Linked DNA regions of Homo sapiens: region 1 is linked to region 2. Evidence: fine-mapped expression QTL. Tissue or cell type: blood mononuclear cells. Region 2 holds a variant in brackets; the other region holds the start of a gene. All regions are shown on one strand. Distances are from middle to middle.

Region 1 (8,189 bases), 33 kb after region 2:
GTTCTTTTTTTAGGTCTTTAAGAAATCTCCATACTGGCCGGGCACGGTGGCTTACGCCTGTAATCCCAGCACTTTGGGAGGCCGAGGCGGGCGGATCACAAGGTCAGGAGATCGAGACCATCCTGGCTAACACGGTGAAACCCCATCTCTACTAAAAATACAAAAAACTAGCCGGGCGTGGTGGCAGGCGCCTGTAGTCCCAGCTACTCGGGAGGCTGAGGCAGGAGAAGGGCATGAACCCGGGAGGCAGAGCTTGCAGTGAGCCGAGATCGCGCCACTACACTTCAGCCTGGGCAACACAGCGAGACTCCGTCTCAAAAGAAAAAAAAAAAAGAAATCTCCATACTGTTTTCCATAGTGATTGTACTAATTTACATTCCAAGAGTGTATAAACATTCCTTTTGCTACACAATCTCGCAGACATCTGCTATGTTTTAACTTTTCAGTAACAGCTAAAAATTCTGACTGGTGTGAGATGGTATTTCATTGTGGTTTTAATCTGCATTTCTCTGATTAGGCATATTGAGCATTTTTTTCATATGCTTGTTGGCCATCTGTATGTCTTCTTTTGAAAAATGACTATTCATGTCTTTTGCACATTTTTAATGGGGTTGTTTTTTGTTGTTGATTTCCTTGTAAGTTTTGGTTATTAGTCTCCTATAGGATAAAGAGGTCGCAAATATTTTCCCTCATTCTGCAGGCTGTTTGCTCCATTGATTACTTCTTTTGCTGTGCAGAAGTTTTTACTTAATAATTAAGTCCCATTTGTCTATTTCTGGTTTTGTTGCTTTTGCTTTTGAGGTCTTAGTCATGAATTATTTGCCTAGACCAATGTCCAGAAGAGTTTCATCAGTTTTCTTCCAGTATTTTTCAGGTCTTACATTAAGTCTTTAATGCACCCTGAGTTAATTTTTGTATATGGTGAGAGACAGGGTTCCAGTTTCATTCTTCTGCATATGGCAATTGAATTTTCCTAGCATCGCTGTACCCATCATCTGGGTTCTCTATTCTTTTCCATTGATCTATTCATCTATTTCTATACCAGTACCATGCTACTTTGGTTACAATAACCTTGTAGTATAATTTAAGGTCAGATAATATGATGCCTCCAGCTTTGTTCTTTTTGCTTAGGACTGCTTTGGCTATTCAGGCTTTTTGGTACTTTTTCTTATTTTGAGAGGCATCATTATGAACTTATGGATTTAAAAATGTATTTGATGTGTTTCAATTTGTTGCAGTTATTGCTCTTTTTAAGGCTCAAAGGTACCCATTTTGAGGCAGCAGGAGTCCCCTTCAGGTTGGCTCTTGGACCCTTTTGGTACAACTCCAACAGTCTTTGATAGCTTCTTTATGTTCTACTATGAAACAAGGTTCCAGACTTGCAATCATCCATTTCCCCAAGAAGCCTTGATCTTTTCAGTGGAAAATGGCATTTTAAAGACTAAAACCTAGGAGTTATAGATAAACATTTGCTATTGACTTACTACTGCTTCTAGGCCCTTTCAGTGCACAAAGCTAGGAAATAGTTTTATTCTAGAAAAAAAAAAAATCTAACCATGTATTCGTGTTGATTTTTTCATTTCAAATCAACTACCAAGTTTTACTTAGCTTCTTAAATCTTGTTTTTGTTTATTTCTTTGAGACAGGGTCTCACTCTGTTGCCCAGGCTTAAGTGCAGAGGTGTGACAACAGCTCACTACAGCCTCTACCTCCCAGGCTTGAGCCATCCTCCCACCTCAGCCTCTCAAGTAGCTGGGACTACAGGCGCATACCACTATGCCCAGCTAGTGTTCGAACGTTCTTTTTTTAAAAAATTATTTTAGCAGAGATGGGGTTTCACTATGTTCCCCAGGCTGGTCTCAAACTCCTAGGCTCAATCCTCCTGCCTCAGCCTCCTAAAGTACTGGATTACAGGCATGAGCCACTGTGCCCAGCCTTAGATCTTATTTGTATCTCTTTTTACTTATGCTGAAAACTACAGTTTCTAATGACATTATTTGTTTTATCCAACTATATATAGGAATTTTAACATAATAATATCAATATGATTACTAAATATTAAGACTACTAAGTGCAGGTTAACATATCTTTGTGGTTACGTATCTTTGTCTCTACGCTATATCCCACTAGAGATGCAGAGTCAATAATACTGTTTTAAAATTACTTAAAATAGTACTTCTCTGTGTGGTTTTGCCATCACCTAGATATATACCTAGGTTCATTTCTTTCTAGGTGCTTTTGCATTTTAGAGATCGTTTGTGTATTTGTTTTAAGATTTAATTTCTAAAATATTTATATCGGCTGGACGTGGTGGCTCACACCTGTAATCTCAGCACTCTGGGAGGCCAATGTGGGTGGATCATTTGTCAGGGGTTCAAGACCAGCTTTGCCAACATGGTGAAACCCTGTCTTTACTAAAAAAAAAAAAAAAAAAAAATGAGCCAGGCGTGGTGGCGTGCACCTGTAATACCAGCTACTCGGGAGGCTGAGGCATGAGAATCGCTTGAACCCAGGAGGCAGAGGTTGCAGTGAGCCGAGATCGCGCCACTGCACTCCAGGCTGGGTGACAGAGTGAGACCCTGTCTCAAAAAATAAAAATAAAAAAATATTTATATGGTTCTAAATTCAGAACTATAAAAACAAGGTACAATCAGAAAGGAACTATTTGCTATCTCTCTGCCTTTTCCTTCCCTTCCCTTATAGGTAACCATTTTCATTCGTGTTTAGTTCATCCTCCCATTATTTCTTTTTGAAAATATAAACAAGCGTATGGAGAAAATGGTATTTCAAGGACCATAATTTGGGCACTGTGAATATTCAATGCTATTGACTGGTTTATGTATTTGTGTATATATACAATATTTATATCTACCCTTCCTTTCTTCCTAAAACTTAGCATATTATATATATTCTTCTGCAGCATGCTTGTTTTAACTGAACAGTAAATTTTGAAGTACCCTGAAGCAGTATAATAAAATCTTCACTATTTTCTATAATTGCAAAATGCTCCCCTTTGAATGTTCCATCATTTATTCAGCCAGTTCTACGCTGAAGGACTTTTGTGTTTCCAGTGTTTTGTTTTTACAAAGAGTGCTATAAAAAGTAGGTGTGTAAAGGAGTCATTTCTTATTTTGAGTACAGATTCCAGGAAGTAGAACTGTTAAAACAAAGAATAAATATAAATGTGATTGGCCGGGCATGGTGGTTCACATCTGTAATCCCAGAACTTTGGGAGGCTGAGGCAGGTGGATCACCTGAGGTCAGGAGTTCGAGACCAGCCTGGCAAACATGGTGAAACCCCATTTCTACAAAAAAATTAGCTGGGCGTGGTGGCAGGCAACTGTAATCCCAGCTACTTATGGGGCTCAGGCAGCAGAATTGCTTGAACCCGGGAGACGGAGGTTGCAGTGAGCCAAGATCGTGCCACTGCACTCCAGCCTGGGCTACAAGAGCAAGACTCCTTCTCAAAAAAAAAAAAAAATAAAAAAAAAATAAATATATATATATATATATATATATATATATATATGATTTTGATAGATACAGCAATTTCCTTCTTCTTGCCCTCAAATAGTAACAAGTCAGGTAGAAAAAATGGGTCTGAAATTTGGTAGTACAAGAGAAATTTTCATTTTTAATTCTTCCTATAAACATTTCCCTCTGGTATAAATTAATTTTGAGTTGTTATATTGACAAAATAAATGATTTAACATATATTGCTGGATAACTTTAGTTCTATATAAAATTTATTTTAAAATAAAAACAGCAGGCATAATAAAAAGTAAAAAAAATTAAAAGTAACGTGGGATGAATGGTTTACAGACATGAGCTCTTTCCTGGATGTTCTCCTTCTGAAATTCTATGATTTTGTGAGCTAAGCTCTTTTGGGATTTCCTAAAATAGGACAGATTTCAACCATTTTAAAGTAAATGGAACAAAAAAAGCTTTTACACCAAGCTTCTTTTCATTCCTATTTAATTCCATATTTTTAGTAAGTTTTGATATCTATAGAAAAGAAAGTAACCTTTGTTTAAATACAAACCCATTTTCTTGGAATAATATATTACATATACAATGTAGGACTAAATTTGCAGATCCAGTGCCAAATACTCTACGTAGGCAGTTTAACGAGGACTTCCTGTTACCGACTAGCTCCAATGAAAATGATCTTCCTTTAATCTAAAGAATAGGCGTCTAACAGGCAGAACCAGATTCTCCAGGTGTGAAGTAAGCAATCTATTTTCACTTGCTATTAACAGCAAACGTACAACTTTATCTCTTATTTGACTTCATTATTTGGCTTTCAAATTAACAACATGAAAACTATACAGAAATTAGTCTGTGCCCTATAAGACAGAGATTTAGATAATTTGTTCAAAACATGAGATGATATTCAGATATTCTCTCAAAGGCAGGACTCCAACACCGCAGGTGGAAAACCAACAAAAGGAAGAAAACAGAAAGGTAAATAATGACTCTTTTCTGTACTTTTTAATATGAGGTATCCATAGACTGACATCTGGTTACACTGTTACATTTAAAAATCACTCAACAAATAATGAGGGTTACTTGTTTTGCTCAGATTTGGACCGGGGTACCAGTAGCTGATTTGTTCACATATATTACTGACATGCTGACTGGGATCTGGGTATAAAGCTCTTGAAAATAGACTACGATAATAAAAATCAACTTTAGAGGAAAGAAAAAATTTTTAAGTCTTTTAAAAAGTAAGCTCTCATTTAAAAAATACTAGAAAGTCAGATGTAAAAACAGATCTAAAATTATTTCTTTTATAGACAGACTATGAATGTGCTTACTTTAGAGAACATTTTTATATTTCACTCTGAAAAGCAGCTTATACCCAAATTTGACACATACGTATAACCTTAAAAATCTGAAATAATTTGCTATAATGGTCTTAATTGCTTCATTGTTGTTTACTAGAATCTTCTAAAATTGAAAAAATGAGAAAATAATCTTGTGAAAGGGCTACCAGAAAATATCGAAGTACTCACTAACCTTTATAATATTTCAACTAGTACATTAAAAATACTTGTTATACCATTTAACGTAAGTGTTAGCATTTAATTGATAGTTTGAAAAATTTAAATCAGCATCATTTAAATACAACATATGTAGATAGGTTAGATACTTTCAAAGTTATAATTGTTACTATGTTAGAATTTAATAAATATTCCATTTCAAATCAAAATAATAATGACTTTTATATGTATTTTAAAGGTGGACTTGAGAATTGGCCACGTAATACCTCGAACACATTATCTTCACAGCTATGCAGTTTTAAATGTAATATAAAAATCATTTTATGTATGTACAGCTTACTTGAATCAGATAAAAGTTCAAAAATTATACATCATATTTAAACAAAAATGATCTTAATGTTGTTATACAAGTTAATTCAATAAGTTATTTAGACTAAATAAAATGTAGAAAAAAGCATTGAAAGTTTACATTGCAAAAAAAGTCAGATACTTCAAAATTAGACAATATATGCAATTTGCAATTTTTTTTTAGTTTTTAGAAACTACTATTTGGCCCTCACTTTAGTAGCCAAAGAGGTTAATATATTACAATAAGATCCTCTGCTTTCACTTGCACTAGAAAAATGTGGCAAGTTGACTTCATATACAAAAGCAACAGAATATTCTGTTTTCTCTTGGGTAAAAACTGGTCATATTTCTTGAAATGTTTTATTTAATCATTACAGTAACTATGAAAAGAAATGGCCTACTTTAAAAAAATCTATAAATACACTAAGTATCTATCCCAGGGCATATTTCTAAAAGTACAAGGTAATTTTTACTCATGTTTCTGTTTCTAGGGATTTTCAGTGTCTGTAATAGGGCAGAGAACCTTTTATTTGAGTCGCACCAGTTTACTTTTCTATTTCCCAGAACAAGTTGTCCAAGTTGATTATCATACATACGAGTTAGTGTTCTTTCTTTTTTAAATATCATGTTTAAGCTCACAGATACAGTTCTTGCTAGTAAAATTCAAAACTGTATAGCAATGCTGCAAGTTAAACATAATAAAAGATGATTCATATTTGTATATAACTCTTCCAACATAATAAATTTAAGGTACATAACAGACTGCATAAAATAGTAATTTCATCAATTTCACCTAGTCTAAGCAATTAAATGATTTCACAACTATGAGCTTCATATTTTATGCTTATATGAATCCTGTCCTTGCATGTTTTAAATTCTAACATGCTTATTTGTCTCATTTTGCCTAACATTCTAATTCATGAAGATATAAGATCAATAAATTGGATAGTTATACATATAGTTATGAGTATGCAACTACTAGAAAATGTAATTTATATACAGCATATAAACATATTTGAGTACCTATCAAGTCAATTTCTACACAGATGAACAAGGATTTAGGGAAACATTCTCAATTATGTTAATTCTATAAAGATAAGCAACTGTGACTTTCAGTCAAAATGCACAGATACAGAAGTTACTCCCTCTTTCTCTAAACATACAGAATTTGATGTAATCGTAAGTTTAAAAAAGACAAATTTTAAAACAACATCACTAAATTTTAGAGTAAAAAAGCGAAGTTTTCTCCTGGCTCACACGGTGAAACCCCATCTCTACTAAAAATATAAAAAGTTAGTCGGGTGTGGTGGCGGGCGCCTGTAGTCCCAGCTACTCTGGAGGCTGAGGCAGGAGAATGGCGTGAACCCGGAAGGCGGAGCTTGCAGTGAGCCGAGATGGTGCCACTGCACTCCAGCCTGGGCGACAGAGAGAGACTCCGTCTCAAAAAAAAAAAAAAAAGAGAAGTTTTCAGGTGCCAGAAATGATGAGGAAACATACTTAAAGCCAAAGTGAAGAGTAGTAATTAAAGCTAATTACACTGGGCAAATACTTTACCTTAAAGCTGAGGTTTAGAGTTTGTTGCATTATAGGGAACTAAAACTGAGTTTCCTAGATGAAACAGTTAACTAGGAATAATACAACATAATCTGTATACAAAGACAGGAATAACTCTGTTGACTTGCCCAGGATTATAGCAGGAAGTGAGATATCCACTTAGGCTATAAAAATCACTAGAGAAAAATTAGGCCTACATAATACTACCTGGGCTACAAGGGGCAAACTCCATGGGGCGTTGGTAGTGACAATCAAAAAAATAGCCTCAATGTATCCATAATTGATCAGGACACTCAGAGCATTCTTGTATAACTCCCCAATGAAGCTAGGCTACTGACGAATTTCACTAAATACACTTGCCCACATTTAACAGAGTGGTCACCAGTCCGTGGCCACAGCAAACATAGGAATTTACTCCTAAGAAACTAGAAATAACCTAATAATGTAAAGGATCTTTCACATAAATATTCTCTAAATGTTCAAAAGAAATACAGGCATAGGATCCATAAACCAAGACAAACACAGTATAACCTTTATAGCTCACTTTAAACATCGTTTACATAATACGCATTGCCATGATGTATAACACTGAAAGGAAACCTGATTCTATTTCCATGTTTTGCCTTTAATATCAATAATGTATACAGATATTAAAAAAAGGATATTTTGTTTTTTGCTTGTAAATTCATTAAGATTAATAAAAAGGACATATTAATATATTTTAAAGGGCTCCTTAAAGTACCTTTTATTCAAATATAAAAGTGTGGTGCATGTTCAGGGAATGATATTACATGGATAAAAATCCAGGAAAAAAACAACCTTTATAGAGGTCAGACTCAAATATCCTGCTTTCCAAAATCAGTGGCAGTAAAATGCACCTTCTCAAAGGCACTTCACAGGAAAATTCACCTTCCCAGAGGCCTGTGTACACTGTGCTCCAATAGCAATTTGAAATAGTCTATTTCTTAAAAATTTTTAAACTATGATGCTTTAGAAAAAGGCTTTTGATTACTTTATTTCTAATTTTTTTAAAAAAGAGGCTGGGTGCACTAGCTCATGCCTATAATCCCAGCACTTTGGGAGGCGGAGGTGGGAAGATTGCTTGAGCCCAGGAGTTAGAGATCAGCCTGAGCAACACAGCAAGACCTCATCTTTACAAAAAATTTTAAAAAATCAGCCAAGCACAGTGGCATGCAACTGTAGTCCCAGCTACTCGGGAGGCTGAGGGAGAAGGATCACTTGAGCCTGGGAGGTAGAGGCTGCAGTGAGCCGCAATTGAGCCAC
Region 2 (8,189 bases):
GACCCAGCTTCCCTTCAGGCCTTTGCTGGCACCCTCAGGCTTTGTTAGATACTTGGATCACAGTATTTACAAATTAGTTTATATAGTTGTAACCACACCCATCTCCTCACTTCTCCCATTAACACTAACTAGACGGCATGTAAACTGGACATGCAGACTGTCTTGCTCTGTATTCCAGAGAGGGTTATATAGTGTATCAGGCACTCAATGTCAAGAACCCATACAGTAATCCATACATTAACATCATCTTACCAAACAGACAAATCACATTTCTCCCACTTCCATGCATTAAACATTCCTTATTTTTATATTTAAATAATTTTGTGTGTATATGCACGTGTTCAAAATATACCCAGCCATCGACATAGGAAAGAAATATGATTACCAAATAAAGTGTACCTTTGGCTGAGATAAAGCAGTGCTGGCTTTAAAGATTTGTTGTATTATCTTCTAAATTTCAGAAATCAGTCAAATATTCCAAATTTTATGTTTTTTTCTTTTACAGTATAATTAATTTTGTCAAACTAGTGGGCATTCCTATTTCAAGGATCAAAGTAATTGCTCAAAGCAAAGGCGTAACAATTTGTGCTTACCATCCCGACAAAGTTTTATTTCCCCTTTCCAACATGCTATGATTCATTCTATTTCTTCTTAGTTGTTCCTTTCTATAGCTTCAGTAGGAAAAGGCAACCAGATTTAGATTCCTTTGCCTTTTAACCTCACAGCATCCCTCCCACAAAAAGGAGGACTACATATTGTACTTTGTTCCATCATAAAGCATCGAGATGAATTATACTAACCTTACTGTATTCCAGGCATCTCCGAGTTCTTTGGAATACTGTTTTTCAAAATGATCCAACACAACTTTGCAAATCTGTTTTGCAAGCTTCCCCTCTGATTTTGCTTTCAGCTATGACGATAAGAAAAAGTTGCTGACACACAGTGATATTACAAATTTACTGAACGTCAACATTAGCAAGGTCTTTTTTTAAGACAAGAACACTTTTTTTGGATAATTACTAGTTCTTGAAATGGAAGCAATACCTTACATGTACCAAAACTGTACATTATCTAATTATGAAAAAGCAAGGTTTTTCCAAATAATTATTTTCCAAATGTGAAGCAAAGGTTAAAACAGAATCTACTGGGGCTGAAGAAACTGTCAAAAGGAACAAAATTAATTTTAAAAAGTCACTGTAGGGGCTAGGCAGGTGGCTCACACCTGTAATCCCAGCACTGTGGGAGGCAGAGGCGGGAGGATCACATGAGGTCTGGAGTTCAAGACCAGGTTGGCCAACACGGGAAACCCGTCTCTACTAAAAATACAAAAATTAGCCGAGAGTAGTGGTGGGCGCCTGTAACCCCACCTACTCAGGGGGCTGAGGTGGGAGAATCGCTTGAACTCAGGAGGTGGAGGTTGCAGTGAGCCGAGATCGCGCCACTGTACTCCAGCTGGCTCATGCTTTGCAGGGACGAGGCGAGAGGATCATTTCCCAGTTCAAGACCAGACTGGAAAACATATCAAGGACGTGTCTCTACAAAAAGTAAAAAAAAAAAAAAAATTAGCCAGGCGTAGTGGCCTGCTCCTGTAGTCCTAGCTACTAGGGAGGCTGAGGCTGGAGGATCGCTTGAACCCAGGAGTTCAAGGTTACAGTGAGCTATGATGGAGCAGCTGCATTCCAGATTGGGTGACAGAGCAAGAACTTGTATCTAAACAAAACTAAAAAGTCACCGGGGATGCTGACATCAAGAAAAATTGGTGAAAGGTATTTGAGAACTCTGTACTATCTTTGCAACGTTATTTTAAAGTGAAAAGTTAATTTAGGGAGAAAAGTCACTCCAATTTCATCGTGAACTTCCTTGCAATTGTTTCATTTATTCATCCAAGAAACGTGTATTCAATGCCTACTATGTAACAGACACTGTTCTAAGCTCCCGGGATACCGCTGTGACACAGAAAACAAATCTCAGCCCTCCAAGAGCTGGAGGGAGTGGGTACTAGAAGTCTGCGAGCTGGACGGAAGGGACTCAGCATTACAGCACTCAGCATTATTTCAGGGCTTGACAGTAAAGCCAAAGAAACGCTGATCTCGCGAGGGGACGAACAAAGGTGATGTTCCCCCATCCCAGCACCCTCCCTCGCCACCTCGGCCGCGTCCAGAAGCGTCTCATTCAGATAGAGGTACCCAGCCGGGCCCCAGGTCTCACCTGGGTCAGCATTGTCCCGCTGAGAGCTTTCAAACAACAGGTGTACGCGAATCAGTATCAAAAAGCCTCCAGGGAACTGAAAAAAACAGTCTGACTTCCGGGATTCGCGGGCATCCACTTTCATTCTCACGTTTCCTCTTCAATTTCTCGCGAGATACTGATTTGCTCGCGCTATAGAATTCTTGTCGAAGAGGCTTAGCTCCCGCGGGAGATTTCGTGCGCAGTTACTTCCGGTAGCTGGTAAAGGCTGATACTTCCCAGGACGCGGAGGTAACGGGCCAGGGCCAAAGCGACTTTCGCTACTTGGATTGGTCGGCGTAGCTTTGGGCGGCCGGACCTTAGAAAGTCACACATCTGCGCGCCTGTGCGGCCCCTGCTTCTGCGGATGCTGAGGTGGGAGGATCGCTTGGGCAGAAGTTTGAGGTTGCAGTGACCCGTGATCGCGCCACTGCACTGCAGCGTGGGCGACAGAGCGAGGCTTTGTCTCAAAAATAAATAAAAAGTCGCATATTGTGCTGAACAGTGTGTATATGCATGGGGCTCAATAAAGGAATGAGTTTTGGGGTTATGTTGTATGATGACTGATTTAAAATATTCTCAAAGCGAAGCTAGTTACTGACTTAATCTACCAAATCTAGTGACCCCTGTTAACCTAGACATTCAGTACCCAAGGATAAAAGGGTGGAATATAATGAAAAAGAAATTAAGTCATGCTTTTCCCCAGACCTGGCCCATGGGGATAATCTCTCCTTTTAATGGAGAGTGTTAAACTGAAGTAGGCATGTAAAGCGGTTACAACAGTGATTAGGAAACAGTAAATGCCCAAATGTTAGCTGCTATTATTTTCACTATTGTGATCATTGTGATTTTTGTCGCGTTGATACCAAATGCGTGAAGACCAAAAGGACCCTCCACTCTAGCCTCCCCAATTCACCTTTACAAGGGAGCAATGTTTAATGGTTCTCCAAGGAAGATGTTTATTACACCTATTTTGACACGAATAGAAGTTTATTTGCTCTTTTGGTGTCATGCTTCAGTAACTATCATTTGTAGCAGCAATCAGCAATTAGAAAAAACCGGTTTGATATGGTCCCTGATAGTTAATAATCATCATTTTGAGTTGTTCCTTGATGCTCATATCAATATACGTACATGCTATAGGTACAAGTCTTATATTCATGTAAAAACATGTCTTTCCTTCTAATCTGATTTGAAGCTTAATATATTTATTTATTTAAACAAGTTTCCAAGTCACCTAAAAAATGCATCTTATTAGAATTTAGATTTGGTACAAAAGACTATGATAATCAGGAATGAAATGATGCCATCTCTTGGATGCCGTCTGTTTAATGTTTGTGGAAAAGTCGGTCTAACCTTTCAGCCTCTGTATTTTTTATAATTTTATAAATTTATATTTTATAAATATTTTATAAATTTATACTTTATAAATATATTTTATATAATTTATTTTTCTATGTTCATTCCAGAATGTTGCAATTAATTAATACAGTGGTATTGTATTTGCAATGTAGGCACGTAAAAAAATTTGAAGAAGGGAATTTCGCGGCATTCTTGGCCTGGCTTCCTGGCGTAGCCAGCAAGTTCGGAGGTGTTAACCGCTGCTGTCATGTTTCTTTTGCTAAACTGCATCGTCGCTGTGTCCCAAAACATGGGCATCGGCAAGAACGGGGACCTGCCCAGGCCGCCGCTCAGGAATGAATTCAGGTATTTCCAGAGAATGACCACAACTTCTTCAGTAGAGGGTAAACAGAATCTGGTGATTATGGGTAGGAAGACCTGGTTCTCCATTCCTGAGAAGAATCGACCTTTAAAGGATAGAATTAATTTAGTTCTCAGCAGAGAACTCAAGGAA[C/G]CTCCACAAGGAGCTCATTTTCTTGCCAGAAGTTTGGATGATGCCTTAAAACTTACTGAACGACCAGAATTAGCAAATAAAGTAGACATGATTTGGATAGTTGGTGGCAGTTCTGTTTATAAGGAAGCCATGAATCACCTAGGCCATCTTAAACTATTTGTGACAAGGATCATGCAGGACTTTGAAAGTGACACGTTTTTTTCAGAAATTGACTTGGAGAAATATAAACTTCTGCCTGAATACCCAGGTGTTCTCTCTGATGTCCAGGAGGGGAAACACATCAAGTACAAATTTGAAGTATGTGAGAAGGATGATTAATATGAAGGTGTTTTCTGGTTTAAGTTGTTCCCCCTCCCTCTGAGAAAAGTATGCATTTTTACATTAGAAAAGGGACTTTTGTTGACTTCAGATCTATGGATAATTATTTCTAAGCAACGTGTTTTTATTCCTCACTAATCTTGGCTATATCAGATACCATTTATGAAACATTCTTGCTATAACTGTCTCTCCAAGACCCCGACTGAGTCCCCAGCACCTGCTACAGTGAGCTGCCATTCCACACCCATCACATGTGGCACTCTTGCCACTCCTTGACATTGTCAGGCTTTTCTAATGTTGGTAGTATTTATTAAAGATGAAGATGCACATACCCTTCAGCTGAGCAGTTTCACTAGTAGGAAATACCAAAAGCTTCGTACATGTATATCCAGAGGTTTGTAGACAAATGTTGCAGCCTTTTTTGTAACAGTGAAAAACTGAAAACAACCTGGAAGTCCAGTGATGGGAAAATGAATATATTTCTGTCTTAGATTGGGGAACCCAAAGCAGATTCCAAGACTGAAATTTAAGTGAAAGCAGTTTATTTGCTAGGTCATACCAGAAGTCATCAATCGAAGTATGGAGAAATGGAACTGAGAAGGTAAAAACCAGTTCAAAATCAGTGAGGAGGTTCTCAATGGTAACGAGCTCCATACTGCTGAGATACAGGGAAACGGAGGGGAGAAAGCTAGAGTATTTAACCCCCACTCCTTGGTTGTCAGCTCCCTGTCCTGTGTGTGGGCAGAACGTACTCCACCTACTCAATAGCAAGTTCCAGGTGTTTGCTGAAAGAAGCTGCTGTAATGTACGGGAACGGTGAATGCCAAACACTTAAAGCAATTCCATGTTTAAGTATGTAAACTCTTCATACTTTTTTTTTTTTTTCTTTTTAAGACAGAATTTCACTCTTGTTGCCCAGGCGGAGTGCAATGGAACAACCTTGGCTCACGGCAACTTCAGCCTTCCCAGGTTCAAGCAATTCTCCTGCCTCAGGCTCCTGGGTGGCTGGGACTACAGGCGCGTGCCACCACGCCAGGCTAATTTTGTATTTTTGGTGGGGACATTCCATGTTGGTCAGGCTAGTCTCGAACTCCTGACCTCAGGTGATCCTCCTGCCTCGGCCTTCAGGGGTGCTGGGATTACAGGCATCAGCCACTGCACTTGGCAGATCTTCATTCTTTTAGTAAAAAGTATAAAGCCACACATGGTTTATTTGAAATATTTTATAATTTAAAAAAGTACAGAAGCAGGAAAACCAATTCTAGGTTCAAGTGAGGGATGATGGTAGTTTGAACCAAAGGATTGCATGTGGTAAGAAATTGTGATTTAAGATATATTTTAAAGTTGGAAGTAGCAGGATATTCTGATGGAGTTTGACTTTGGTTTTGGGCCCACTGAGTTTGAGATGCCTTTGAGAAATGAAAGAAGTAGAGAGAGAATTAAAAACTGGCCAGGAGTGGTGGCTCACGCCTGTGGTCCCAGCACTTTGGGGGGCTGAGGTGGGTGGATCACCTGAGACCAGCTTGGGCAACATGGTGGAGCCCTGTCTCTACAGAAGATACAAAAATTGGCTGGGCATTGTGGCACACACCTGTAGTCTCGTCTACTCACGGGGCTGAGATGGAGGATTCAATTGAGCCCATGAGTTCAAGGCTGCAGTGAGTCGTGATTTTGCCACTGCACTCCTGCCTGGGTGACAGAAGAGACCCTGTCTCAAAAAAGAATCTGAAAACAACGGAACCATGCCTTCAGAATTCTATAAAGTTATTTTCAACTGATAAATCTATATTCAGGCAAAGAATCAAGGGTGAAGGTAAAATAATACATTTTTAGACAAGCAAAGACTCAGGGGTTACATGTACCCTTTCTTGGGAAGCTATCGGAGAAAATACTCCAGCAAAATGAAGGCGTACACAAACCAGAGAATGACGTGGATCCAGCAAATAGTATCCAACACAGGCAATATTCCAGCTATGGAGCTAGCTTTAAAAAGAAACAGTAAAAATACTAATAGATTAGCTGGGTGGGATGGCCCATGCTTGTAGTCCCAGCTACTCAGGAGGCTAAGCAAAAGGATGGCTTGAGCCCAAGAGTTCAGAGCAGCCTGGCCACCATAGTGAGATCCCTTCTCTTAAAAATAATAGGTTATTGCCAGATTTGGGGCATTTGGAAAGAAGTGCATTGAAGATAAAGCAAAAGTAAAAAAAAAAAAAAACAAAAAAAAACAAGGGGGAAGGGTTGGTTAGGCAATAATTAATTCTAGGGCAGGAAGAAGTACAGGATAGGAAGTAAGAGCATCATACGCTGTTTTTCTCAACAATGGGCAATATGTACATAGTCATAATGATGTGGTGACTGACTGCTTAGCCCCTAAATCTGGTAACTACTTTGGGACAATATGGGGGGAAAAGTGAAGATAGTGATGGTGTAAGAGCTAAATCCTCATCTGTCATATCAAGAAATCACTATATAATGTATAACATAATCAAGAAATGACTAAGTAGTTATGTGAAGAAAAGAATGGAACATTGCTAGAAGAGTTAGAAGTCATTGCTCCAGAGAATTAGGAGGGATGGGGCAGGGGACTGTTAGGATGCATTATAAACTGAAGAGGCTTTTAAAGATTACATGTATTAATATATGTATTCACTTGAAAAACTAAAAAAATAGTAATTTTTTAAAACCCATGGAGGTAACTACCAGAAGGAAAAACTAAGAGAATGAAAAGTGCTTTCCTCTGGAAAGAACAAGTCGCAGGACTGTTTTCATTGTAAGACTTTTGGAGCCATTTGATTTTACTTAACCATTTTCATATATTTCTTTAATAAAAATAATTCTATCTTAATAAAAAGTTACACTCATTCATTAAAAAAAGAATTTTAAGACTGTAATAAGAATCATAGTTTATTTCTGTTAGAGAAAGGCAATGTGTTATACTTGGAAAGAGGTCATATTAATTTTATCACATTTTTGGGACTCAGCATCTTTATATTTTCTGATTTTAAATAAACAACTTTGCTTATGAATTTTGTCTGAATCTCTAATAATCTCCTTATAATGCCTAGTTAATTATGCCCTTAGTTTGGGTAGGTTTTCAAATCTTATTAGTTATTTCTTTTTTAGATTACCGCTCATGTCCACTTATCTATAGGTGTCTTAGTATCATTTTATTTATATTTGAGATAACCATGTCAGATGTTAAAACACTTTCTCAATTTTTCTTATAACCATTTGACTTTAAGTGTGAAGGTATTTTAAAATTTTTTTTGTGCATTGTAAATTGAGTTTATTGATTCCACTGCTTTCAGGCTTATACATTTTTTCCCCGAGTGAAGCCACTTCTGTTTCTCCCCTTACCTTTTCATAGTTTGATCTTTTATGTTTAACCTCTTAATCTATCTAGAATCAATATATGTGTATCATGAGAATGTTAATGGATTTTACTCCCCATCCGCACCCCAAATAGCTACCAAAGAACAAACAATTCTACATTGAGTTTTAGGAATAAAAACTGTTAGCAGCAAACTTGAATTAAACCACTGCAGACATAAGACATTGAGCTGACACAAATAACATAAATCACATTAGTTTGTTTTTTGTGCTTTTTTTAATGTTAGCGTTAAAGAACCAAGCAGCTTAATAAGGACGTACCTCTAGGCAGGAAACAAATTTTTACATATCTAAGCAATTTTATTATAAGGTCAGTTGGTCTTAAGAAGTATTTCAGAGTAATTTATGGAATAACTCCTAAACTATGTTTTATGAATTTTCATATTTATATAAAATGTGT

Evidence for each region. PIP is the estimated chance that this variant, and not a neighbour inherited with it, causes the effect.
Region 1: STX19 starts here. The variant in region 2 is fine-mapped to the expression of STX19 in blood mononuclear cells (TOPMed, PIP 0.99).

What each region holds. Positions count from the first base shown.
Region 1 is chr3:94,024,642-94,032,830 of GRCh38, reverse strand. It overlaps STX19 (syntaxin 19), which reads left to right and starts at 4,234. Exons shown (of 2, transcript NM_001001850.3): 1 at 4,234-4,464. All of the region lies in intron 3 of ARL13B (ARF like GTPase 13B), which reads right to left.
Region 2 is chr3:94,057,158-94,065,346 of GRCh38, reverse strand. It overlaps DHFR2 (dihydrofolate reductase 2), which reads left to right and starts at 2,431. Exons shown (of 2, transcript NM_176815.5): 1 at 2,431-2,601; 2 at 3,741-7,425. The coding sequence starts at 3,836. The coding sequence ends at 4,399. It overlaps NSUN3 (NOP2/Sun RNA methyltransferase 3), which reads right to left and starts at 2,286. Exons shown (of 6, transcript NM_022072.5): 1 at 2,209-2,286; 2 at 801-910. The coding sequence starts at 2,220. RefSeq lists an enhancer at 2,153-2,392. The variant C/G (reference allele first, on the strand shown) is at 4,082.